Linked DNA regions of Homo sapiens: all the other regions are linked to region 1. Evidence: fine-mapped QTL for protein levels in blood plasma. A gene starts in region 1. Each other region holds a variant in brackets. All regions are shown on one strand. Distances are between the middles of the regions. Region 1 holds the start of CCN5 (cellular communication network factor 5). Region 2 has its middle 13 kb from the start of CCN5. Region 3 overlaps CCN5 (cellular communication network factor 5).

The links. PIP is the posterior inclusion probability: the model's chance that the variant is causal. Protein levels are from antibody-based Olink assays in UK Biobank. Linkage for the fine-mapping came from a reference panel and not from the study's own genotypes, which makes the PIPs less certain.
Region 2: its variant is fine-mapped to the plasma level of the CCN5 protein (UK Biobank, PIP above 0.99).
Region 3: its variant is fine-mapped to the plasma level of the CCN5 protein (UK Biobank, PIP 0.97).

What each region holds. Positions count from the first base shown.
Region 1 is chr20:44,711,402-44,719,577 of GRCh38, reverse strand. It overlaps CCN5 (cellular communication network factor 5), which reads right to left and starts at 4,209. Exons shown (of 4, transcript NM_003881.4): 1 at 4,128-4,209. The coding sequence starts at 4,187. It overlaps KCNK15-AS1 (KCNK15 and WISP2 antisense RNA 1), which reads left to right. Exons shown (of 5, transcript NR_132377.1): 4 at 2,785-2,953; 5 at 7,590-7,716. LOC124904911 (a long non-coding RNA gene) reads left to right here and starts at 4,804. Exons shown (of 2, transcript XR_007067598.1): 1 at 4,804-5,637. RefSeq lists a silencer at 4,616-4,910.
Region 2 is chr20:44,698,208-44,706,383 of GRCh38, reverse strand. No RefSeq gene overlaps it. Among named protein-coding and RNA genes, the nearest start is that of CCN5, 13 kb to the left of the region's middle. RefSeq lists an enhancer at 3,508-3,587. The variant G/C (reference allele first, on the strand shown) is at 3,218.
Region 3 is chr20:44,723,409-44,731,584 of GRCh38, reverse strand. CCN5 (cellular communication network factor 5) reads right to left here. Exons shown (of 4, transcript NM_003881.4): 3 at 6,593-6,847; 4 at 3,774-4,498. The coding sequence ends at 4,278. All of the region lies in intron 3 of KCNK15-AS1 (KCNK15 and WISP2 antisense RNA 1), which reads left to right. Among named protein-coding and RNA genes, the nearest start is that of CCN5, 12 kb to the right of the region's middle. RefSeq lists an enhancer at 4,351-4,876. The variant G/A (reference allele first, on the strand shown) is at 4,070.

The sequences.
Region 1 (8,176 bases):
GGTTCAAGCGACTCTCGTGCCTCAGCCTCCCGAGTAGCTGGGACTACAGGCGCCCACCACCATGCCTGGCAATTTTTGTATTTTTAATAGAGATGGGGTTTCACCATGTTACCCAGGCTGGTCTTGAAATCCTGAGCTCAGGCAATCCGCCCGCCTCGGCCTCCCAAAGTGCTGGGATTATAGGCATGAGCCACTGCACCTGGCTAGACTTCCAGTTCTAATTCTGCCCCTTATTAGCTGAGTGACCTTGAGGAAGTTACTTAAGCATTCTGAGCCTCAGTTTCCTCAAAGTATCTAACTCAGAGGATTGCTCTGAGGAGTACATGAAATGCTGCACAGCAAACCCTCAGCACAGGGCCTGGCATGCAGTAGGCGCTCACTGCACTTAGCTTTGATGATCCTTGTTGTTAATGGTGGCAGAGGGCTCAGCCCCAGCCCTCTGGGAGCTTACAGAAAGGCAAAAGCAACAAGTCAAGGATGAAAATGGTAGGGTCTGGTACATTTTCCAGCATACGGATACTTATCTTAGGACTGAATAAATTGAACCATATCATGGATGTTTTTGGCCTTTCGATCCATTCAGCATGTGTCCCAGCTCTGGAGGTACATCACATCAGCCAGGAGACTTGGGAAAATACAGACCCCCAACCCACTCTGGGGCTTACAAAATCAGAAGTCCCAGAGTCAGGGACCTGGAATCTTTATTTTTAATAAGCTGTCCAGTGGCTTCTGAAGCTCAGCTAGGTTTTCAGCACCTCTGCCCCAGTCTAACCTCCTCCCCCTGCCAGGTACGGATGGGGAAACTGAGCTCCAGAGAGGGACAGGAACTTAGCACACGTCAGTGTGTTCGATTCAGGGCTGGGAGCGTCCCCGGTCCTGCTTCCCAAGTGAGGACTCAGGGACACGGGATGGGGGTAGACTGTGTCCGTAAGCCAGGGACCCACTCCCCAGAGACAGGATCAGGGTATCAGCCCATGTGGCCTGCCTGACCCTCGCCACCCACATCAGAGAAACAACCAAAGCATACAGCAGGTGCCGTGAGCTCCCTGTCTGCCCATTTGAAGGTGGGGACCAAGAAGGAAGTATAATTCAAGATGCTTCCAGTGGCCCCATCTTTGGGGGGCCAAGTTTGAGTTTAGTAGGATCCTTAGGGGATGAGGGTTTCATCTAGAGGAATGGAGGCTTGCAGTTTATAATGATGGAATTAATGACCTCATATCTCCTGTGCAGCCCCAAAGCAGGCAATGACCCCTTTGCTCTGCCTCACCCTCTGCCCCGCCCAGTGCCCCCACTACCCACAATCCTGCAAACCTGCTTTCAGTTCCCGGCAACTCCCACGCCGGCCACTAGGAGCCATTGCAAACTGGCTGACCAGCCTCTGGTGGGGGCCACAAAGTAGGAGGCGATCACAGCCCCCACTGAGACAGCACTGAGTAGCAGATGGACACACGGAGCTAGGTGTCTGGCTGCCTCACAAGGGAGTGGATCCCATCGCTGCAGGCTGTTCAGATTCTAGAGACGATGGCCTAGCCTCGCCCCTCAAGGTGTGGTCTGAACTAGCAGCAGCAGCGTCATCTAGGAGCTTGTCAGAGAGGCAGCATCTGGAGCCCCTCTATAAATCCGAAGCTGAATTTTTATATAATAAATCCGAATCTGCATTTTCTTTTCTTTTTCTTTCTTTTTTTTTTTTTTCTTTTTTGAGATGGAGTCTTGCTCTGTCACCTAGGCTGGAGTGCAGTGGCACGATCTCGACTCACTGCAACCTTCGCCTCCCAGGTTCAAGCAATTCTTGGGAGGCCTCAGCCTCCCAAGTAGCTAGGATTACAGGTGCATGCCACCATGCCCAGCTAATTTTTTGTATTTTTAGTAGAGACGGGGTTTCACCATGCTGGCCAGGCTGGTCTCAAACTCCTGACCTCATGATCCACCCACCTCGGCCTCCCAAAGTGCTGGGATTACAGGCATGAGCCACCACGCCCAGCCCGAATCTGCATTTTCATAAATCCACAGGTGATTCACATAGAAACGGTCTAGGCTTTTGGGTTCCCTTCTAAGTCAGAGGTTCAGCTCCCTTGGCTTGTGGGCAATGGAGGGAGGACTGTCAGAAATGACTCTCAGGTCCCTCCCACCTGAAAACAGGAGTGCCAGGAAATAGACCAGCAGCTGTGCACCTTGGCTCCCACTGTGGACCCCTCTACTGGCCATGCTTGTCAGGGGGCAGGACTCTGTAGGCCCCGATACCCAGGAGAGGCTATTAATGATATCAACTATTCTAGTGTACAATTATCTCATGTGATACCATATGTATGTCATGTGCCAAGTGCTGTTGTCTCATTTACCCCTCCAATGTGAGGTGCCATCATTATGCCCATTTTAAAGATGAGAAAACTGGAGCTCAAACCGTGTAGTAACACAGCCAGTAAGAGACAGAATCAGGATTGACATCCAAGTTCAAGTTGACATCCAAGGCCCAAACTCAAGTTGTCCCATTGTGCCTCAGTTTCCCCAGGGCCTTGCTGTGATATCTGGTGGTGGGGGGCAAGGCTCATGATATCTGGGGCAGGAGTACTGGGCATGGAGTTTTTTGGGCAAGAGTTGAGATTCAAGTTCTGCCAGTGACTTGCTACGTGACTGAACATGTGGACAAACGGCTTTGGAAGGTGGAGGTGAAGCTCAGTTTTCTCCTCTGTAAACTGGAGTAGAGACAACCTGTTTCTGAGTGATGATGGAGATTAAATGAGGTTCTGGCCAGTCCTTGATCAATGTGATTTTGCTTGTGTCCAGGTGTCTGCCTCCTGCCCCGGTCCACAGCCAGGAGCCCCGGAGCCAACGGCCAGCCTGGAAGACTTACAGTTCTCCCTCTGAGGGTTGCTGTGGCTTTCCATGTTGTGGTGACTAAGTCCCTGTGTTTCTGTGCAGTCCCTGCTTCCTGGGACCAGGGAAGAATGGTCCCGTAAGTCTCACCCTAATGGCAAGTCTAGGACAGCTTTACTTTGTTCTCGTATAATCCTGGGCCCCTTCTCCCTCCTAGAGCCCCAAGTCCCCTATTCCAACTACCCAAGCCACCCACACTGGCATCATGCCCTACCCATCCCCTTTGGAAGAACAAACAGCAGGACAGGATGCCAGCGTGGTTCTCAGGCTTCCCAGGCACGAAGACTTGGAGCCTGAGGGAGAGAAGCTCCTGCCCGTGCTCCTCAAAGGAGCGTGAAAATACAGTGAGATCGTGGCTTGTGGTGGGGCCGATTCCATGGCTCTGGGAACTCAGCATTTGCCGAGGGGATGACAAGGCTTAGCAGCTGTGGCCTTGGTCCAGTTTGGGCTTGGGGAGGCACAGACTGGAGTGCTTCTCCCCCTACATCCATGTCATTCTGGGCTCCACCATGGCTCTCCTCTATTGCTCTGACCTTTCTTTGCTGTGTGGCTTTGGGCAAGTTGCTTACCCTTTCTGAGCCTCACTTGACTGAAAACTGGGGTTGCAAGTTGCTTACCCTTTCTGAGCCTCACTTAACTGAAAATTCCTTATGGGATTGTTGTGCATGTTAGACAAGGTAGATGTCCCACAGGCTCTTTGGTGAATGTCCCATGCAGCATTCAGGGATAAGGCCATTACTCCACAGAGGTGTCTCCTGTTCCCCTCTAGCTAGGGCGGGCGGGTCACTCACTGCCTAAGAGTCCAACAGCATTGATGCCCTTGCAGAATGAACCTTCCAATCAGCTAGGCATCCATCCAAATGCTGGCTCAGAGTTAGGCCAAGCATGTCATGTCTTGAGTGCCCCCATTCATAATGAGGATACATTAAAGTCCTCTTCAATTTGCCTGGTAAGTTTGATGAATGATCATGAATGGTCTTCACAGAGGCCTCACAAACTGTATACCCTTCACCTGGGAAGATGCTGAGGCCCAGAGAAGGCAAGACACATATCTGAGGTCACACAGCAGGGCTGGCCGGAGGCAGCTCTGAGTTCCAGGGAGAGAAGCCCTGCTTAGGCATGGGGGCCAGACTGTGCCCAATGTGGGGCCCTGGAGGAATTCTGCCAAGGGGGTCCTTGGCTGCGATTTTACATCCCCACCCCCTCCACACCCAAATAGTCAGCAGTGCATTCCAGGGCCCGGGCCTCCTTACCTTTGAGAGGAGGCAGAGGAGGGAGAAGGCCAGGAGGTGGGTCTTCGGTGTGCCTCTCATGTCCCCTGCAGAGCCAGCTTTGAGCCTGGGAGGCGGACCTGTGAGTCTTTATGTTCCGGCAGCTGTGAGGTCACTCCCAGGCACACACAGGCACACGCACGAGTACACACGCGCGCGCGCGCGCGCGCTCACACACACACACACACACACACACACACACAAACACACTAGCTTTTTCATTCCTTGCTTCGCTTCCCATCCTCATGGCTCAAAGGATGAGCCCATTTACCTGAAGGTGAAACTGTGAAGGCCACCAAGGGGGTGCCTGTCCGTGTGTGTGTGTGTGTGTGTGTGCGCGTGTGTGTGTGTGAAAGCCTGAGCCAGTGCCAGCACCAAGAGCCTGTGACAGCTTGCAGAGGCCTCTCCAGCTCCTTCCAGCCCAAGAGGGTCCTAGCCCTGCTGTAGTTGTGAAGCCCTATTCCAGACCCCCTGTCCGAACCCCAGCGGGGCTGCAGATACCAGAAGCATTCAGTAAACAACCCCTTTGCAGAGCTGACCCAAGGTCTCCTAAGCTCCGTGGCCCTGACTCTGGGTAGCCGCGGCCCAGCCTGCGGTTTCTGGCAGGCAGATTGGCAGCCACCCAGAGGTGGGTGTGACCCAGAGCAAAACTTCCCTGGGCGGCCTGTTTGCTCTTGGCAATAAGGGGCCTCCCTTGGCCTGCCTCCCGGCTCTGGAAGGGGGCCCGTGGTGGGCGAGTCCGGGCAGGCTGGACCTACTATGTGCCAGCGCTTGCTGGGCACCGCTAGATGATGGGGTCAAGCCAAATCCATTTGGTTTCATTCGGCCGCCTCTGAGTTCGCCTCTGCAGGAGCTGGAGGCACAACACTGACCTGAGGACAAGGCCCAGAGAGGGAGAAAACAGAGGGAAAACAGGTGGAAGTTCAGGAATACCAGGCAAGGTCCCTTGCTCAGACCAAGAGTGAGGGACACTTTCTGATGGAGGTGCCATTTCAGAAAGCCAAGAAAAGAGAGGGTGAGAGAGGGCAGAATGTTCCAGGCCAAGGGAACAGTACGTACCAACGCCTAGATGTCGGACATAGCATGATAGCCTGCTTATTCTGGGAGCCAAAGCGCCTGGTATGAGTGGAGCCTTCTGTGCAACGGGAAATGGTGATGTCTGTGAAGGGTGAGACACACAAGTTCACATCACCAAGATTTGGGGACATCTACTATGTGCCAGCCATGGGGGCGGGGGACAGAAAGACATGGGCTTTGTTTGTAGAATTTGGCAAAGATAAAAGAGGTGATGTCAAGGGCTGTCTGGGGCCCCCATTACCTCCACCAGTAGTTGTCCAAACCTCAAAGTGATCTAGCTGGATAGCAGAGGTTCCAGAATGGGCGATTGGTGAGGAAGAAGTGTGACTTGATATAGTGGCAAGACGGGGATTGTGAGCATGGAGGAGATTCCCCACGGGTGCTGTCCCATCGGAAGAGGCAATGGAAACGGAAGGTGAAGATGAAAGTGTGGGATTTGATTATTTATGGCAGGAAGAGGTGGCCAGGGTGGAGATGGGGGTCTGGAAACTTGGAGGAAAAGAAACAGAAGGGATCTTTTAAATTTTGTTTTATTTTTTGGGATTCTTGTGGAAATGCTAATGTTTTAGTCAGAAGCATGCCTAGAATAATTTACATCCACAGTGGATCATTTTTAACACCCCTCTTCCTTCATAGTACAAAATTATTTTCAGTAATAATCATGAAACAAAACAAATATTTTTCATGTATGAATTAAAATTTGCACTTACCAAACAAAATCATTACCATTCACAGTTCACACTGTTTTACTCTTTTAAAAACTGTAAATACAAATCAAAACTCCAAGTAGTTTCGTAAAATGACAAAATTGAAATACCCTTATCGTCATCTTTCCCATCATTCTGCGTTCATAGTTGATTTCACTCTACTGTTTAAACACAGAAATACAGCTGGGCCGGTGGCTCACGTCTGTAATTTGGGAGGCCAAAGTGGGAGAACCACCTGAGATCAGGAGTTCAAGGCCAGCCTGGCCAACATGGTGAAACCCGTCCCTACTAAAAAAAAAAATACAAAAATTAGCCGGACGTGGTGGGTGCACACCTATAGTCCCAAGTACTCAGGAGGCTGAGGCAGGAGAATTGCTTGAACCCGGGAGGTGGAGGTGGCAGTGAACCGACATCTTGCCGCTGCACTCCAGCCTGGGCGACAGAGAGAGACTCTGTCACACACACAAAATAATAATAAAAATAAATGCAGAAATATGAATGCTGGACGGTGGAGACAGGAATGCATTCAAAGCAAGCTTGGAAGATTCCAGAGTTGTGAGGAGCTTACTCTCAACTGATGTGTGTTCCTGAGACCACATGCTCTGGGGGCAACTATAGGATTCTTAAAGTTCTCCAAGTCAAGTTGACTTCCATGTAGAATATGTTTATTAAAGGATAAGAATAAAAATGTGCTGATTTGAAGCTTTACATATACATTATTAAACCCCAACAGTTACTGCACCAATTGTTAGAACTTAGATCAATAAAGGGTATTTTCAGGACAAAGTATTTTACCACTGAAATTATTTAGATCTGCCATTGCACAGTGATCATAAAAGCAGACTGACTTCTCATCAGTTTTATTTTATCTTTAAATTCTGTAGGCCCCCCACCCGTTATTGCCTGCATCCAGGAAAGGTCACTCCGACTTTCCTGTCCTCCCTAGGCCACTGATATTAATAAAAATAAAAGCAATTGTGTATAGCACCCAGCAAGATCCAGCCCTTGTGCTAAGCACTGTTTATAAAAAGCAGCATTTCTAATCCTCATGATCCACATCTCAATTGAAAAAAGTGAGGTTCAGAAAGGTTAAGTAACTTGCCTAAAGCTACACAGCTAGAAAACAGAGCCAGGTTTTCAGTGCGGGTTCATATGACTCCAACACCCAAGTTTCAGTTTTTGATGCTGTTTATTTCTGCTACTGTCCATAGAGCTCTCTGTGATAATGTTTTTTAAGTTGAGAGGTAATGTATATACAGAAAAGTGCTTAAAGTGCACTAATATGAAGTGTAGAGCTTGACAACTCTTTCTTTCTTTCTTTCTTTCTTTCTTTCTTTCTTTCTTTCTTTCTTTCTTTCTTTCTTTCTTTCTTTCCTTTCTTTCTTTCTTTTTTTTGAGACAGAGTCTCACTCTGTCTCCCAGGCTAGAGTGCAATGGCATGAACATGGCTCACTGCAGCCTCAGCCTCCTGGGTTCAAGGGATCCTCCCTCTTCAACCTTCTGAGTAGCTGGTGGCATGAGGCAGCATGTTTGGCTAATTTTGACTCTTGACATATGTATATACATGACTGTATATACCCATGTGATAATCACCCAGGTCAAGCTACACTTCCAGAAGTTTCCTTATGCCCCTTCCAAGACTCTACCCTCTGTCCTCCAGGTACCCGCTATTCTGACCTCTGTGGCCACTGATTAGTTGTTCCTGAAAGGAACAGTTTTAAGCCACTTCTATCTCTGAGGCAAGAAGGAAGACGGGAGAAATGAGGAGGTGTGAGGAAGAGAGTTGGAGGGAGACACGCTGGTCCCAGCCATGTCCATAGCAGAGCAAGGAGACCTTGACAATGAGGAGGTGAGGTGGGCCATGGGTGCCACGTATGGTGAAGAAGACAGGGCCATACGGGGCAGGGAGGTGGCAAGAACGAGGCAGAGTGCTATGCCCACCTAGGGCCCTCTGAGTCAGAGCATGGATTTTTCTTGGAACTTTTTCTGTCTGATAACTGAGGATGGGAAAGTGTGGGCAGTAGGGGCCCTGGGGCCTGGCCAGATCAGGAAGCAGGCGTCATCATCAAGGGTGTTTGGTGATGAAGTGTGAGGGATGGAGCTTGCACACACAGTTCAGCATGAGTGGGTGTGGCAGGAGCGGTGGGAGCTGCCACTTTGCTGATTGGTTTGCTGCGGTTCAGCCCTCCCTTCAAACTGTCCAATTTTGGCACCAGAGGGATATAAGCATCCAGGGAACCCATGAGT
Region 2 (8,176 bases), 13 kb after region 1:
CAGGCATGCAGCTAGTGAGGCATAGACCAGCCTGCTGGGGAGCTGGAGGAGGTCATATGGAGGATGGAAATAGCTTTTAAATTAACATGAAAGCTTATGCACAGGCCTAGCATGCCCGGGAATAGGCACTGAGCCTGGCACTTTAGGCGCTAGATACATACTTGCTGTATGAACGAATAAACGAATTGAAAGACCCAAGCTCTTATCCCAGCTCTATTGCTGTGTGTCCTTAAGCAAGTTTCTTGGCCTTGCTCAGCCTCAGTTTCTTCATCTGCAAAAATGGTAGAGGGGTGAATCCCATCATTTTTACAACTTCCTGGCTCTAGGGGTGTATGTTTCTATGCTTGAAAGCATTTATGGGGCGGCAGCTCTGACCTGAAGAGAGGCAGGGAGGGAGGGCCTCAGGAATGCAGAATCCCTGAATGTCAGAGACAGGGTGATTCCTATAGGCTCTGGTGTCAGATGAGTTACCAGAGTTCAGGAGACCCCACTGAGTTGGAACCTGTTGGTCAGAAGGGAGCAGGCACCAGGGCAGGGGTGGCTTTGTTCTGGACCAAATATCTCTTGGAGTAGGAAGACAACAGGTTAGGTTATTCCCTTCCCATCCAAGAGCACCTTCATCAGTCAGGATATCCAGGCTCCAGGGACTTAGCCCTCACTGTCTGAGTCCCTACAGATGCCATTATCTGCCTGATTTATTCATCCACCTGCCCATCGACCCACCTGTCCATCAATCCACCTGTCCATCAATCCATCTGTCCATCCATCCATCCTTCCATGTTTGTCGGTCCATTTGTCCATTCATCTACCATTTGGTCACTCATTCCATCCATCCATCAATCCATCCATCCATGTATCTATTCTTCCATCCAACCATTCATTCATTCATCCATCCATCCACTTATGCATTCATTCAGCAAACACCGAATGTAATAGGTCATTCCCTACTATTAAGAATAAAAACTAAGGTCTCTGTCCACAATGAGCTCACAGACTAGAGGGCAATATAGAGACAAGCAAAGAGATGATTCCAGCACAGTAAGTGGGAGATACTAGGTACTGAGGGTGAAGAGATGGAGGACCTAACCCAGCCTGGGAGGTGGAGGAGGTGGTTTTGAAAGGCTTCCTGGAGAAGGTGACACCTGAGATGAGTCTTGGAGCAAGATTAGGAGTTGTCCAGGTGAAGAGGAAAATAAAACAGAGCAGCAGGAGAGTACAAAGGCCTGGAGGTGGCCTGACAGCAGGAGCTATTTGGGGAGCTGCAAGTAGCTGAGCCTGGATGAAACCATGAGAGCCAGTTGGAGGTGGGGTGGGATGAAGCTGAGAGGCTCTGTGTAGTTGGGGAGGACATTTGCAACTGGAGGTAGGAATGGGGACTGAGGCCTTGGGCACATCCGAGAACTATTTGGAGAGGTAGAAAGCCTCTGGGTCAGGCATGGGAACTCCAGGTTCCTTCCTCCCTTCTACCCCTGAGGGATGTTAGGCAACTCACCTGGCTTCTCTGGGACTCAGTTTCCCAGCTGTGACGTGACAGGTTGCCCTTTTAGCCTCTTGGGACTCTTCCAGCTCTGAGGGAGCTCCTGAGTCACATGTGGTCAACAAAACCAATGCCCACGTGAACATCTGGTCTGGCCTTAGGAGGGAGTTAATTGTTCCCAGTCTCTATGTGTGTTAGGGGGAGGGTGGGGGGAGGCCTTGGTCAGGGGGACCTTGGTTAGGAGCCACCCCCGAGGGGCTCCCAGTCATGGGATGACAGGACATGCTGAGAAGGGAGTGAGTCACTGGCCAGTCATCAGCTTGGGCCCCAGGGTCTCGGGGGGGCAGGGGAGCCCCATTCCCTGCTCATCACAGAGCCTCCTTCTCAAGATGGCTGACCCTTTGTTAGAGCAGCAAAACCCCATGCTACACTCTAATATTTAAAACAGGCCCAAGGACAGTGGTTTGGGATGAAGCAAATGGTGAGAGCCCTCACCCAGAGCAGCCCCCAAGGCCCCACCGAGGAGCCCCTCCAAGTCTAAAAGTCCAAACACCCGAGTCCCTCAGCAGGAGTGACAGGCCCAGAGTCAGTAGGGACTGACTGGAGCTCACACAGCACGTTCATTCGCTTCTCTCCTCTCCTGGCTCTGACACTGCCCTTCCCCGCTCCTGAAGGATGGAAGATAAAGCCAGGCTCCTCCACCATCCCCTGCTCTCTGCAGAGCCTCCCTTCCCTCGAGGAGGTCACGTGTCCGGTGCCAGGTGGCTCCTCTCAGCTCAAGCCCATGGTGGCTCCTTGGCAGCACCATAGGAGACATAGCTGAACCATGCTCTGCCCCGGGCATGACCCCTGCAGAATTTGCCTCCATCTCTGGGTCTGTGTCTTCACCTTTTCAATGGGAAGAGTGAGAGGCTGGGATAACTAGCATGGCACAGGGCTTATTATGTGTCACGTGTATATGCAATCCTCACAGAAACCCCCTAAAGGAGGCATCATTATTATCCTCATTATACAGGTGGGGAGACTGAGGAACCAAGAAGTTGAGTGACTTGCCCAAGGTCACATAGCCAGTAGGAAGCAGAGCTGGGATTTGAACCCAGGTGGCTGGCCCTTGAGTCCCTGCTCTCACTCATTGTGCTATATTGCCTCTTAAAAGATGACCCAAAAGCACCTGCTAGTTCCTGCTGCCTGGCATCTGGACAGGAAGATAGAGGTGATTCAAGGGAAAGGGGGAGAAGCTCTGCTCATTTACTCACTATGTGACCTTGGGCCAGCCACTTCCTCTCTCTAAGCCTCAGTTTCCAAGGTTTGTTGTGAGAATTAAAGGGCTGGGGCAGTGACATTCAGGAGATGGTAGCAGTGATCGTGGTTAGTATTCCTTCAGTACTCACTCCTGCCCCACGGCCCCCTGCGGACACTCTCTTTGGGTGGGGAAGAGGTGGCAGCTGTAATGGAGACCTTTTCTTCCATCTCTGAGCTACCCGGGTGTGTCCCCAGGAGAAGTTTCCCCTCAGATCCCCGGAAAGGACCAGCAGGGGAAAGTCTAGCCACACCCTATCTCCTGGGCGCAGCCCCTGCTCCATGCTCAGATCCCGAGACCTGGTCCCCTTACGGGCCAGTTCACTATCAGGGACCGGCGTGGGCATATGGGCTGCCCAGGCGGCAGCTAGGGGCATCTAGACCAGCTTCCAGAAGCCCAGGGTGGAGGGCACGTGGGACAGGAAGACCCCAGTGCCCCAC[G/C]CCACCAGCCCCATCAGCTCCCCTAGCCCCAGAGAAAACACTTCATTACTGGAAGCCCAGCCAGGCGGAGGGGGTGGAAGTAGCCTTGTTGAAAGAAACCGCACGAGGTCAGCCAAACCTCAGCCCCTCTTGGCCAGCAACCCACAGATCAACCACGTGGGGCTGGCTCTCCGGGTGTTTACGGAAACACTGGCCCTGAGGTCAGCCCAGCTGCTGGGCTGGGATCCCCTGGGACACCCCCAGGCCTCAAAGTGCCAGCTTGGCAGGAGTCTTCAGAGGCTGCAGCTGGGGCCTTATTTGCCTCCACAGTCCACCTGGGAAGTGGAGCGCAGAGAAGCCCGGTGGGCAGTGGAGATGGGCCAGGTCTTCAGGCTTCCCTGGACAGCTGCTTGAGCTGGGACCAGGGGCCAGACCCTTTCCAGACACCCCTGGGAAAGGGACATCATCTCGGGAGAGGGACATAGAAAGTGGACTGTGGAGGCAGATGGCCTGGGTTTGAATTCTGGCTGTGGCCCTCGCAGGCTCTGTAACTCTGAGCAGTTTACTTAGCTTTTCTGTGCCTCAGTTTCCCCATCTATGAAATGGGAATGGTGATAACAGTACATACTTCACAGAGGTGTTGACATAATTAAATGATTTTAGTAAGTGATCTAAATAAGTGATCACTGGCTGGGCGCAGTGGCTCAAGCCTGTAATCCTAGCACTTTGGGAGGCCAAGGCGGGCAGATCACTTGAGGTCAGGAGTTCGAGATCAGCCTGGTGAACATGGCGAAACCTCATCTCTTAATACAAAAATTAGCCGGGCGTGGTGGCACATGCCTGTAATCCCAGCTACTTGGGAGGCTGAGGCAGGAAAATCGCTTGAACCTGGGAGGAAGAGGCTGCAGTGAACCAAGATTGTGCCACTGTACTCCAGCCTGGAAAGCGAGACTCCATCTCAAAACAAACAAATAAATAAATAAATAAATAAATAAATAAACACAATTTTAAAATAAATAAATAAATAAGTGAGAATTTAATAGATGATCCAAGTGGTGTGCTTGGAACAGTCCTTGTCACAAACTAAGTGCTACCCTTAGTGCCGCCGCATCCTACCTAGTGGCCTCCCTCCTCTGAGATCCTCCTGCTCTGTTCAGGTTGGACCGCGTGCTCCTCTGAACTCCCAAGTGTTTGTTATGGAAATCTCTTCCACTTAAACGTTTGCTGAGCATTCCGACCATGAATAATGAGGAACTGAGGTTACAGAGACAAATCCAGTTTAGATCCTGCTCCAGGGAGCTTCAAAGCTAAGGCAAGGATGGGAGGTGAGGCCTGTGCGCTTGGGCAGGGTGACTATAATCCCTAATTATAGTCTCCATGGTAACGAACTGGGGTAACTAATTGGCTGTCCAATGTCTGTGTTTGTGGGAGCAGGGGCTACATGGTCCCTCCACTGCTCCGTCCTGGAGACCAGCTCAGAGACTGGCACCAAGTTGCTAATGACCGCCTGGCACTAGAAGGACTACATGAACACCCGATGCGCTTGGAGCCCTGGCCAAGCTGCCCACACTGAGCCCGTGGTTTCCTTCACCCTCAGCACCTTAATGGAGTAGGGCGTATCATTCTATGTTCAGAGAAGCAAACTGAGGCTCAGAGACGCCAGCCCAATGTCCCACAGCTGGCGGGAGATACAGCTGAGGCTGAACCCACATCCAAGTTCAAAGCCTGCATTTTTAGCTACTCAGCCATACATGATCTTCCTGCAATGTCAATGTAGTATCAAATTACACAGCAACCCTCAGCCTGGGAGTTCAGAGGAGCACCCAGCCTGACCCAGGAGGATCCAGAGGAGGGGAGGGAGGACTTTCCAGGCAGAGGGATCCACTTGCAGAAAGGCGGGGCTGGGCCGTGCGCTGCTCCCAGCGACCTGTGTGTGGAATAGCAACAACTGTGGTGTGCAGGTCTGGGGTGTGTGAATTTTGGGAGCAACAGGTGGTGGGGTTGAGGAACATCTGCAAACAGCCTTGAATACCGGGGCAGGGTTTTAGACTATCCTGTGGGGTAGGAGTCCCCAGAGAGTTCCAAGCAGGGCCTGCATGTGGCCAGGATGGAAGATGAATTACAAAGAAAGGAGTGAGAGGCTGGGAGAAAACCTATTTGCTCAAATAACAAGGCTCAGTATCATTACCATGGAGGAGCTGTCTCCCCTAAATCAAAACTTGCCTGCCTGGAGTTCCACTTCATTTTAAACAATGTGTGCATGTATTGGGGGGTCCCAGAGCCTGGGCATGGAGCAGCTAGGCTTCAAGTCCTTGGAGCCCCGAAATATGCCTTCCTTCCCACCCCAGCCCCAGCGCCTTCAATGCCTTCCTCTGGGGTTAACCCCATTGTGGCCACAGTGGCTGCCAGCAGGGAGGAGGCACAGAGGTGGTGGGAACAGGGCTGAGGGGCACACAGGATCCTCAGCAGCCAGCTTCACCCCCCAGCTTATCCAGGATTCAGACAAGTCCAAGTTCAGATCTTGGATCTGCCATAGACGTGAGATGCGACCCTGGCTGGGTGCCTTGAGGTCTTGACACCTGAGCTACCACACTGGTCACATAAAGACAATAATCAATGCAAGGGCAGCGTGAGGACTGTGGAGACCCTGGGCGGCAGGTGTGCAGCGCGGCGCCACCCCTGCTCTGGTACAGTGTGAGTGCTCAACGCTGTTGTTATTACTATAGCCTACAGCAGAAGCCGCCGTCTGGTCTGGGAAGGACTTGGAAACGCCCTGCTGTGGCCTAGAGATGCACAGAGAGCATCTGTCCCTCTGCCCAGGACCTGACTTAGCTCAGGGAGGCCAGTTTCCCCCAGTGAGCAATGGGGCCCCTGCTTGGAGCCATCTGCGTGTACCCTGCAGGGCAGAAGCTGGTGAAGAGTGGAAGAGGCAGTGTTCTGGGTTCCATCCCTTGGGTTTTAGGGATTAAGCCATCTTGATTCTACCCTCAGCTCCATCCTTTTCTAACAATGCATCCTTGGGCAAGTTACTCAATTTTTAAGTGCCTCCATTTCCTCATTTGAAAAATGGGTATAATCATAGTCCCTACCTCATAGGATCATTGTAAAGATGAGATGAAATCCAGCATGTAAATGCTTAGCCCAGGGCTTGGCACATGGTGAGCACTTGGTAAATATTAGCAATCATTGTTTCCAGGCTGTCGACACAGAGGAGGAGACATGGGACAAGGAACCAGTAAATAATGGGAATCAAACCATGCTACAAGGGGATAAATAATAAAAAGGGTATAATATGTACAAGTGGAGGGAGAGACGAAGGCCATGGCAAGAGGTCCAAGGCAGGGCCACTGCTGGGAAACAGGCCCAGCCAACCTCAGAAAGGCAGTCAATAAAAATAATAGGAACAGGCTGGGTGCGGTGGTTCACGCCTGTAATCCTAGCCCAGCACTTTGGGAGGCCTAGGCAGGTGGATTACTTGAAATTAGGAGTTCTAGATCAGCCTGGCCAACATGGCGAAACCCCGTCTCTACTAAAAATACAAAAATTGGCCAGGTGCGGTGGCTCACGCCTGTAATCCCAGCACTTTAGGAGGCCGAGGCGGGCGGATCACGGGGTCAGGAGATCGAGACCATCCTGGCTAACACGGTGAAACCCTGTCTCTACTAAAAATACAAAAAAATTAGCCAGGCGTGGTGGTGGGCACCTGTAGTCCCAGCTACTCAGGAGGCTGAGGCAGGAGAATGGCGTGAACCCGGGAGGCGGAGTTTGCAGTGAGCCGAGATCACACCACTGCAGTCCAGCCTGGGCGACAGAGCGAGACTCCGTCTCAAAAAAAAAAAAAAAATTAGCCAGGCATGATGGTGCACACCTGCAATCCAGCTACTCAGGAGGCTGAGGCAGGGGAATCACTTGAATCCGGAAGGCAGAAGTTGCAGTGAGCCAAGATCGTGCTACTGCACTCCAGCCTGGGTGACACAGCGAGACTCTCTCTCAAAAAAAAAAAAAAAAAAAAAAAAAAAAAGAACAATAACAGAATTTTCCCCACAAGTGAGCACTAAGGGCATGCTACATGCTGTGCTAACATGCTTTGTATACAATATCTCATTTCCTTCCCACGACAACCCTGGGAGGCAGGGCTGGGGCCAGGTTGAGGCAGCAAGGTGACCAGGGTGCAAATCTACCGAGGCCCTCACCCCGGGGCCTGAGCAAGTGCAGGGTTGGCGCCTCAGAACAAGCACCTCCCTAAATGTTATGCCTTGAGCACCTGGCTGGCTTCACCCTAGTCCCAGCCCTGCTGAGAGGTTGGTATAATATTTAGTCCCATTAGATTGATGTGAAAACCAAAGTCCCCCCACATGAGGCACCTGTCCAGTGAATGTCACATAGCTGGGGAGGAAGAGGCAGACCCCAGGATTTTGAAGCCTAGAGTTATTTTTACTCTGAGGAGCTGCCTCCCAGCCTGGACATGGAAGGTTCCAGTCCACCTCCCAGTGGTCCAATAACTGGAAGAGCTGCTTAGAACCACCCTCTTCTGGCTGGCCTGGGTGGCTGGGAGAGCTGGCCTCCTGGGTGGAGGTCTGGAGATTCCTCTCCACATTCCTAGGGGTTAAATCTGGGGACCCGGGTTCCCAGCATCAGCCATCACGTTCCCCAGAAGGAATCTCTATTCATAACAAACCCTAAAGGTCACTCGTCTGGGAAGGAGTCTTCTGTCTCCACCCCAGGGCAGGACAGAAGGCCCCAGGCTTTGTGAGAGCATCAGGTCCCCAGAGGAAGATCACCTGCTTTTGGCCAGCCTGTGAGCCCCTCTTCTTCCTCTGGGTCTCCTCTGTAGATGGTATCTAAAGAGGATGAATAAACATCCCAGTTGGAGATGAATGGCCATTGCCCGCAGAGAGCAATTGTGCGCTAAATGCATGGGCTCTGAACTCAGCCTGCCTGAGCTCAAATCCCCCTTTCATCACCTGCCAACCATGTGGC
Region 3 (8,176 bases), 12 kb before region 1:
CTTCACAACACTTGCCAAGAATTGCAGGCAGGATGATAATAATAGCTTCAGTTGAAGAACATGGAGGAATTACCTTCCTAATACTCACAATACCCCTGCGGAGTGGATACTCACTATTTTTTTTTTTTTTGGCAGAGTCTTGCTCTGTTGCCCAGACTGGAGTGCAGTGGCATGATCTTGGCTCACTGCAACCTCCACCTCCTGGGTTCAAGTGATTCTCATGCCTCAGCCTTCCAAGTAGCTGGGATTACAGGTGCGTGCCACCACGCCTGGCTAATTTTTGTATTTTTAGTAGAGATGGGGTTTCACCTTGTTGGCCAGGCTGGTCTCGAACTCCCGACTTCAGGTGATCCGCCCGCCTCGGCCTCCCAAAGTGCTGGGATTACAGGCGTGCTCGCCACTGCACACAGCCGGGTACTCACTTTATACAGCCATCCTGTGGGGTGGGCACTACTATTTATTCCCATTTTACAGATCAAAAAACTAAAGCGCCAAGAGTTAGGATAACGGTTGCTAAAATTTATTTTATTTTATTTTATTTTGTTGCAGACTACCACAATTACTACTTGAGACTGTCACTATGACAGTTATTACTGTTACTACTTGAGGCCGTCATTACAGCAGTTACTACTGTTACTGCCTGAGACTTCATTACAGGACTGAACGAGGGGACGAATGTAGAAATGAAAACTTAAGACAAAAGAAACTGTTGTAAAGGAAAGGGCCAGGGGAAGAAGAAGAGAACTCCCTGCTTCTAGTGAGCAAAGGCAGTCCCTGAGCTTCCACAGCCCTTCCTATTTATTGGGTAGAATGAGCAGGGAGGAGGAGGTAATGACTGGTTAGCTGGTTGATTGATCACAGATTCATATTGTTACTAACAGGTTTCAATTAGGCCTAATCACAAGAAACACTATGCTTGGAGCGTGACTGCCCTCAGCATTCCTTCTGGATGGCAGAAACAGTTTGTCAGTTTGCCAACATTCTGCATTTATGAGAAATAGTCTGCTGCTTACTCATATAGCTTCCAGTGGTATACTGAGTTGATCATGACCCTCAATCTTTCGGCCTCCAATATTTATTTATTTATTTATTTATTTATTTAATGAGACAGAGTCTTGCTCTGTCCACCAGGCTGGAGTGCAGTGGTGCGATCTCGGCTCACTACAACCTCTGTCTCCCCGGTTCAAGCAATTCTCGTGCCTCAGCCTCCTGAGTAGCTGGGATTACAGGTGTGTGCTATCACACCCAGTTAATTTTTGTATTTTTAGTAGAGACGGGGTTTTGATGTGTTGGCCAGGCTGGTCTCGAACTCCTGACCTCAAGTGATCTGCCCGTCTTGGCCTCCCAAAGTGCTGGGATTACAGGTGTGAGCCACCGCGCCCGGCCCTAAGTTTTTTTGTAAATCACGTAACACTTTCAACAATCCTCTGTGTTGAGTATTGCCATTATCCCCATTTTAAAGAAGGGGAAACTGAGGCACAAGGAGGTTAAGTACTTTGCCTAAGATGACAGCACTAGGAAATAGCAGAGCCAGGATGCACACCTGGGCAGGTTGGCTGAGCCCACTCACTCTACCACTGCACAGTGGCGGCTCAGCTGTGAGGTCATGGGCCTGAGTCCCAGCTCCACGACTCCAGGGTAACTTGTTAATCACTCTGGGTCTCAGTTTACTCATCTCTAAACAGGGAGTATTAGTGGCACTTTCCTTTAGGAATGTCCCAAGGATGACGTGCAGTGGTGTGGACAGAGTGCGTGGCAGAGAGAGCCTTATGTATGGGAGTCCCTCGGTGCACATTCCTCATTCTTGTCCGTGTTCTCCCTGTTTTGGGGGATGTTATCAGAATTTTGCCTGGAAATGTGTTTAGGGTTTATCCTTGCAGAACCAGACCCATGGAAATTCTCAATCTGTGAGAGACCAACAGCCATTCTCAAGAGTCAGATAAACTCAGGTTGGACTAGCATCCCACCCCAGCTGCAGACCAGCTTTTAGACAGCTCGCTTTCCCGGGTGTTTCCTTATCCCTGAGCTGGAGTTAGTTATATTTGCCATGCAGGGGCTCTGTGAAGGTTACATGGCTCAAACTCAGCATGTGATTCTCAAACTAAGGTTTCTGGAGGGGGTGATACCTGAGATAAGTGTTGGGGGCTGGGCAGCAGGGGCCTCTGTGACCAGCAACCGTACCTGGGGTGGGTAATTTACAAACACTGTGTCTGGGAATTGCCCTCATTCTCAGAACCCTCCTGCCCTTCCTTGTCCTGCATCTCCCAGGCTCCCCTCTCTTCCACCTTCCCAGCAGGTTCGACTCATGGGAGGCATAACTGGAAACTGGGGGATAGCAGCAGGCAGAAGCCAGGGCAGGTCTCCCCACCTCCATCTACTTTTTGTTAGGTCTGCGAGGCTGTGTCTCCTTAGCGGCTGCAGCTCCCAGCAGACAGCCTTGCCAGGTCCTCTTCCTCTGCCTGCTGGTGCCAGCTCTGGGCTCTGCCCTCCCTCTGCCCCTCCGCCCCGAGGGCTGGTCTGGTGTTGAATTTCTCCTCTTGCATCACACGGTCCCCTACTTGGCCTCTCAGATGGGTGACTAAGTCCTCTCATTAAATTCCTTTTGTTTTATTATGTTGAGTGAAAGACGTCATTCATTATAGAGTACCTGCTGTATGGTTGTATTAATGAGAAGTTCAAGAACACGAAAGCTCATCTATGGTGATAGAAATCAGAGCAGTGGTTGCCTTGGGGAGCAGGGGGATAACTGGAACAGAGCCAGAGGGAACTCCCTGAGATGATGAAAATGTTTTATACCTTGATTGAGGAGTTGGTTACATGAGCGTGTACGTTTATGAAGACTCGTTAAACCATATGCTTAAAATCTGTATATTTAACTATGGGTAAATTATACCTTAATAAAATTAGTTTAATAAGAAGAAATCCCTGTTTAAATACCAAGAGTGTTTTCTAATTTCCTGCTTGGATCCTAATGGAAATACAGTTTTACTTTTTAAACAAACACAGGTAGACCATGGAGGAAAATGTAAAATATATGTATTTGGTGTTGGGTGTTTTTTTTTGTTTTTGTTTTTTGTTTTGTTTTGTTTGTAAACAATAAAACATGAGACTTCGAACAATTTCACCCTTGGGTTAGTTGATTTCAGGCTATGCTCCCCAGTCCCTGGGAGGCAGCCTTCATTCTCCCTGCTCTTCTCTGGTCAAAAACGCTGGGAAGCACTGGTCTGTATAAAGTGCTAGTGCCTAGCACATAGCAGGCGCTCAAGCAATGTTAATTATTGGCTGGGCGCAGTAGCTCACGCCTGTAATCCCAGCACTTTGGGAGGCCGAGGCGGCGGGCGGATCACTTGAGGTCAGGAGTTCGAGACCAGCCTGACCATCATGGCTAAACCCCATCTCTACTAAAAATATATTTAAAAAAAAAAAAAAAGCCGAGCATGGTGGCATGCGCCTATAATCCCAGCTACTCAGGAGTCTTGAGGCAGGAGAATCACTTGAACCCGGGAGGCTGCAGTGAGTCGAGATCGTGCTATTGTACTCCAGCTCCAGCCTGGGCAACAAGAGCAAAACTCCATCTCAAAAAAATAAATAAATAAAAAAGTTAATTATTATTAATATGAATTGGGTTTCTTGGATCACTTGAAGGCCTGTCTTCTGGCTTTCTTTAAGACCATGTGATTTCACCTTGTGAGGTTCACAGAGAACTCTGCCCCTGAATTCTGCCCCGGATAATGGGAGGGCTTTCTCAGAAAACACAGGCCTGACACACAAGATCACGCATAGGCTTGTATTCAGGAACAATTTTACAAACTCCAGAAAAGGCAGCAGGAGATCCAGAATCTCTGTGTGCCTTCTCTTCATCCTACCCCCAGAAAAATGGCCAGTCCAGCCCAGCACCTGCTGCAGCCTCAATATTAAGGGACTGCTTGTCCCATCTCTTGCCCAGGGGAAGTCGGAGAGAAAGCTCGCCCGTGTGCATGTTTGATATAGGCTGTGTGTGTAGGCAGGGAGTGGGCTAGAGGACCCTGGACACCTTGGCCAGCCTCCTAGGCAGTGAGTTAGAGGAAAG[G/A]GGACTAGGTCTTGCACCTCTGCCATACCTCGGGATCCAGACAGACCAGGCAGCGTGTTAATATTGGTGTTCTGCATGGTGGACCCAAGCTAAAGTGTTGCCTGCAGCCAAGGGCCTGGGCACGGACCATCTTCCATCAGCCCAGGGCCCAGGCACAGGGCCACCAGCTGGGGATGGTGGACACCGTGTCCCCATTCCCAGCCCGGCTCTAGAAGGCACTGTTTTGTGGACTGCGACCCCTGGAGGGTGGGCAGGGCCTGGACAGGCACAGGCGGCGCTGGGTCTCCAGTCGGCAGAAGCGGTTCTGGTTGGACACCCGGGTGGCCATGCCCAGCCCACAGGTGGTCGAGCAGGGTCCCCAGGCCGTGCTCCATTCTGGGCAGGGGACACCAGGGGGCAGGGAAGAGACAAGGCCAGAAAACTGGGGTCCTAGGGGGGAAAGAACAAGAGTTAGCACTGAGCAGCCAGGGCTCAGCAGCTCAATCAACCCACCTGCCAGCGGCCACGGCAATCTTGGTCAAATGGCTCAGCCTCTCTGCATCTCAGTTTCTTGTTATGTAAATTTCTTAACAGTGGATGGCATTGAATAAAATAATGGGCATGAAGTGCCTAGCACAGTACCTGGTACTTGTAAGATTTCCATAAATATTAGTTATTTGGCAACCAGAGTGTGTTGGTCACGATGGTCCCTCAGTGAACCATGGTTTTCTCGTCTCTTTGGATAAACAGCATTTTACAGGCAGGGGGTGCCCAGCCTGTGTGGAGTGGTGCTTTGGCCCAGTGGCAAGGATGCTAAAGATTCCAGGATTCTTGTGCCAGGAACAAGATGGCAGGTTCACCATGGTCTAGCTTTTTCTCTGCTCCAAGTCTCCCTCTGTGAGTATTTTGGTGTCCTTCCTTCTAGTCTTACACTAGAAGTCCTCAACTAGGGTAATTTTGCCTCCCAGGAAAGGTTTGGCAATATCTGGAGACAGTTTTGGTGATCACAACTGGGGGGATGCTACTGGTATCTAGTGAGTAGAAGTCAGGAATGCTGCTAAGCACCCTGCAGTGCACAGGAAAACCCCCCCAACAAATAATTACTTGCCCCAATTGTCACTAGTGCTGACGTTGAGAAACCCTGATTTCTACCCACATGTGTGTGCTGTGTATGCATGTGTATGTGTAGATATACCTGTATACGTGCATAGGGACACACTTAGTTGAGATCGAGTTGGAAATACACCTTCTTATCCTGCTTTTATCCATAAGGTGAACTCACTGGTGTTTTCCTATGTATTTAAATGGATATATCATATTCCATCACAGGGATAATAACGGCTACCTCTGATATAGTACCATGTGCCAGGCACTGCTACAGCTGCTTAACTTGAACAAACTCAAGTAGTTCTCACAACGCTATGAAGTGGATGCTCTTATTGTCCCCATTTTACAGCTGGAGAAACTGAGACACAGAGAAGTTAAGCAACTTTCTCAGAGTCACACAGCAAAAAGGGGATGGCGGGGCTGTTGCAGATGCCGTGCACCTGACCCATAACACGTGACTACCTCTTGTGGGTGGCAGCAGCATTTATGAAATCAATCCTCCTCTTTTCAGTTGCCTTTTTTAGAAAGTCACATTCATGTGATAATTTTCAAAAAGCAACACAGCAACAACAAAAATCTCTAAAATTGAAGATTTATAGTGGGACGGTGGGAGGTAACTGTCTTTTCTCCATCTCTAGCCCACCCCCGGCCCACATTCCAGAGCAGCCACTTTGCCTCGTTCAGTTTTGAGTTCCTTTTTTAGTAAGCCCAAATAATAATAAATTACTAAATATATTAATATGTATCAATATATTATAAATACGATAATATTATATATTCTAAGAGCTTAGCTCTATTATATCTCTGAAATGTGAGAATTTGGTTCACATACCCTAACCCACCTTTCCTCTCCCGGCTCTGTCACCCAGTTTTTATTTTTAATTATTTATGGTTTTAAATTACACATCTCAAAGGCAGTGGCTTTTTGTTTATTGGTTTTAAAGAGGGAGGCCTGGTGACCCTCCACTCCTCTTTCTTTTTTCCTCTTTTTGAGATGAAGTTTCGTGCTTGTCGGCCAGGCTGGAGTGCAGTGGTGTGATCTGGGCTCACTGCAACCTCTGCCTCCCGGGTTCAAGCGATTCTCCTGCCTCAGCCTCCCAAGTAGCTGGGACTACAGATGCCCGCCACCATGCTAGGCTAATTTTTGAATTTTTAGTAGAGACGGGGTTTTCCTATGTCAGCCAGGCTGGTTTCGAATTCCTAACCTCAGGTGATCCGCCCGTCTTGGCCTCCCAACGTACTGGGATTACAAGGGTGAACCACAGCGCCCGGCCCTCCACTCCTCTTTCTTATCTCCCTCCTCAGCCTCCGCCCCTCCCAGCTTCTGATGTGTCCCTGGGTCCTGGTACCCAGGAAGCCGCCCCCCACCCCACCCCCTAGGTGGCCCTTGGCGCCCCCAGGCAGTCCTGCCCTGACCTGGACCACCGCTGCGCTCACCTTGGGCTGGAAGGGGCTGGGTCCCCAGTCCCCCTCCTTGGCCGCACACCCACTCAGGGCAGCACTTGCCCAGGACCTCGACCCTCCTGGGGTGGGGGCAGTCCCAGCTGGGCAGCCGCACATCCTCGCTGCACAGCGGCACGCAGGTGAAGCCGCCGTCCTCGCAGCGGCAGCGGATGCTGCAGTGGGGCTGGAAGGTCTCCCCTTCCCGATACAGGCGGCCGTTCACCTCACAGCTGCTGTCGTCCTCTGCCACTGCGGAGGAAAAACCGCACCCCCATCGGTGACCCGCAAAGCGGCACAGCCTTCTCTGCAGAGCTGCCCAGATCCCGCTGCCTGAGGCAGCTGCCTCACAGTAGCTGGGCCCTGCCCAGGGCTCCAGCCCAGGATATGCACCTCTCCCCAGCCCTCCACCAGCCTGCTGGGGCACCCTGGATCCCGGCACAGGGATTGCAAGAAGACAGGCCTGGATTGACCCCCCAAACTCTGCCCTTTCTTAGCTGTGAACCTGGGCCAAGTGATTTCACTTCTTCTTGCCTCAGTTTCCACATTTGCAAGCTGGGATATAATGGTACTTATTTTCCAGGGTGGTAGAGACTACTCGGAATGATAGGCGTAATGATCACAACATAAAAGAGACCTTCCATAGGTCCTAGCTACTCTGTTATTATCATTAGTATAGTTACTATATATTAATAAAGTTTAAGTATTCTATACACGCTGAGATTTCATGCAACAAAGTCGTTGTCCACTTGTGCTGTCATCACTGTCAGGTCAGGGCTTAACTTGCTGGCTGTGTGTCTTTGAGTAAGTTACTTAACTTCTCTGAGTGGCCTGAACTACAGCAATGATGAGCTCAGTAATCGTAACTTCAGGTTCCATGGGATGACATGTCCGTACCCTCTAGCACACAGTGCTAGGCATGGCCTAGGTGCTCAGGGAACACTCTTTCAATGAAGCCCTCAAGATATGGGTGTTATTGCCACTTCCTCCACTGGACATGAACTCCTTGAGGGCTGGGGCGGCCAGTGTGCGTCTCTGCACCCTCCGGTGGGCTCAGAGCCTAGGTGCGACACACAGTACTGTAGGAATGCCCCTTCAGTGAATAGCTGGCATAAGCCTTGGCACATGAGAGACCCTGATAAAATAGCCCTACTCCTTATCATTCCAGAGATATTTACTGTTTCCCGCCTGTGTGCCAACCACTGTGCTCCCAGACAGAAAGAGGACAGTTCCTGCCTTGAGGGACTCATGGGCTTGGGAAAGGGGGACGGGTGTGAGGGCATCATCTCCAAGACAGAATGAAGTAAGAGCGCTGGTGAAGCGTGTGAGCTGCTCAGGAAGTGCAGACGGGAAACAGCGTGTGTGTGAGACCTGGGTGGCCACTGAGCTACGTCTGGGGAAAGGACTCATTAGCAAACAAGTTCTCCCAGATCTTCTGAGAAAACCTTCCAGTAGGTCTGTACACACACAGGGGTTTCAGAACCAAAACCACACATACTTAGGTTCCAACTCTGGCTCCCACTTGTGGGGCCTGGGGCAAGTTATTTTGCCTCTCTGAGCCTTGGTACCCGGCTCACAGGG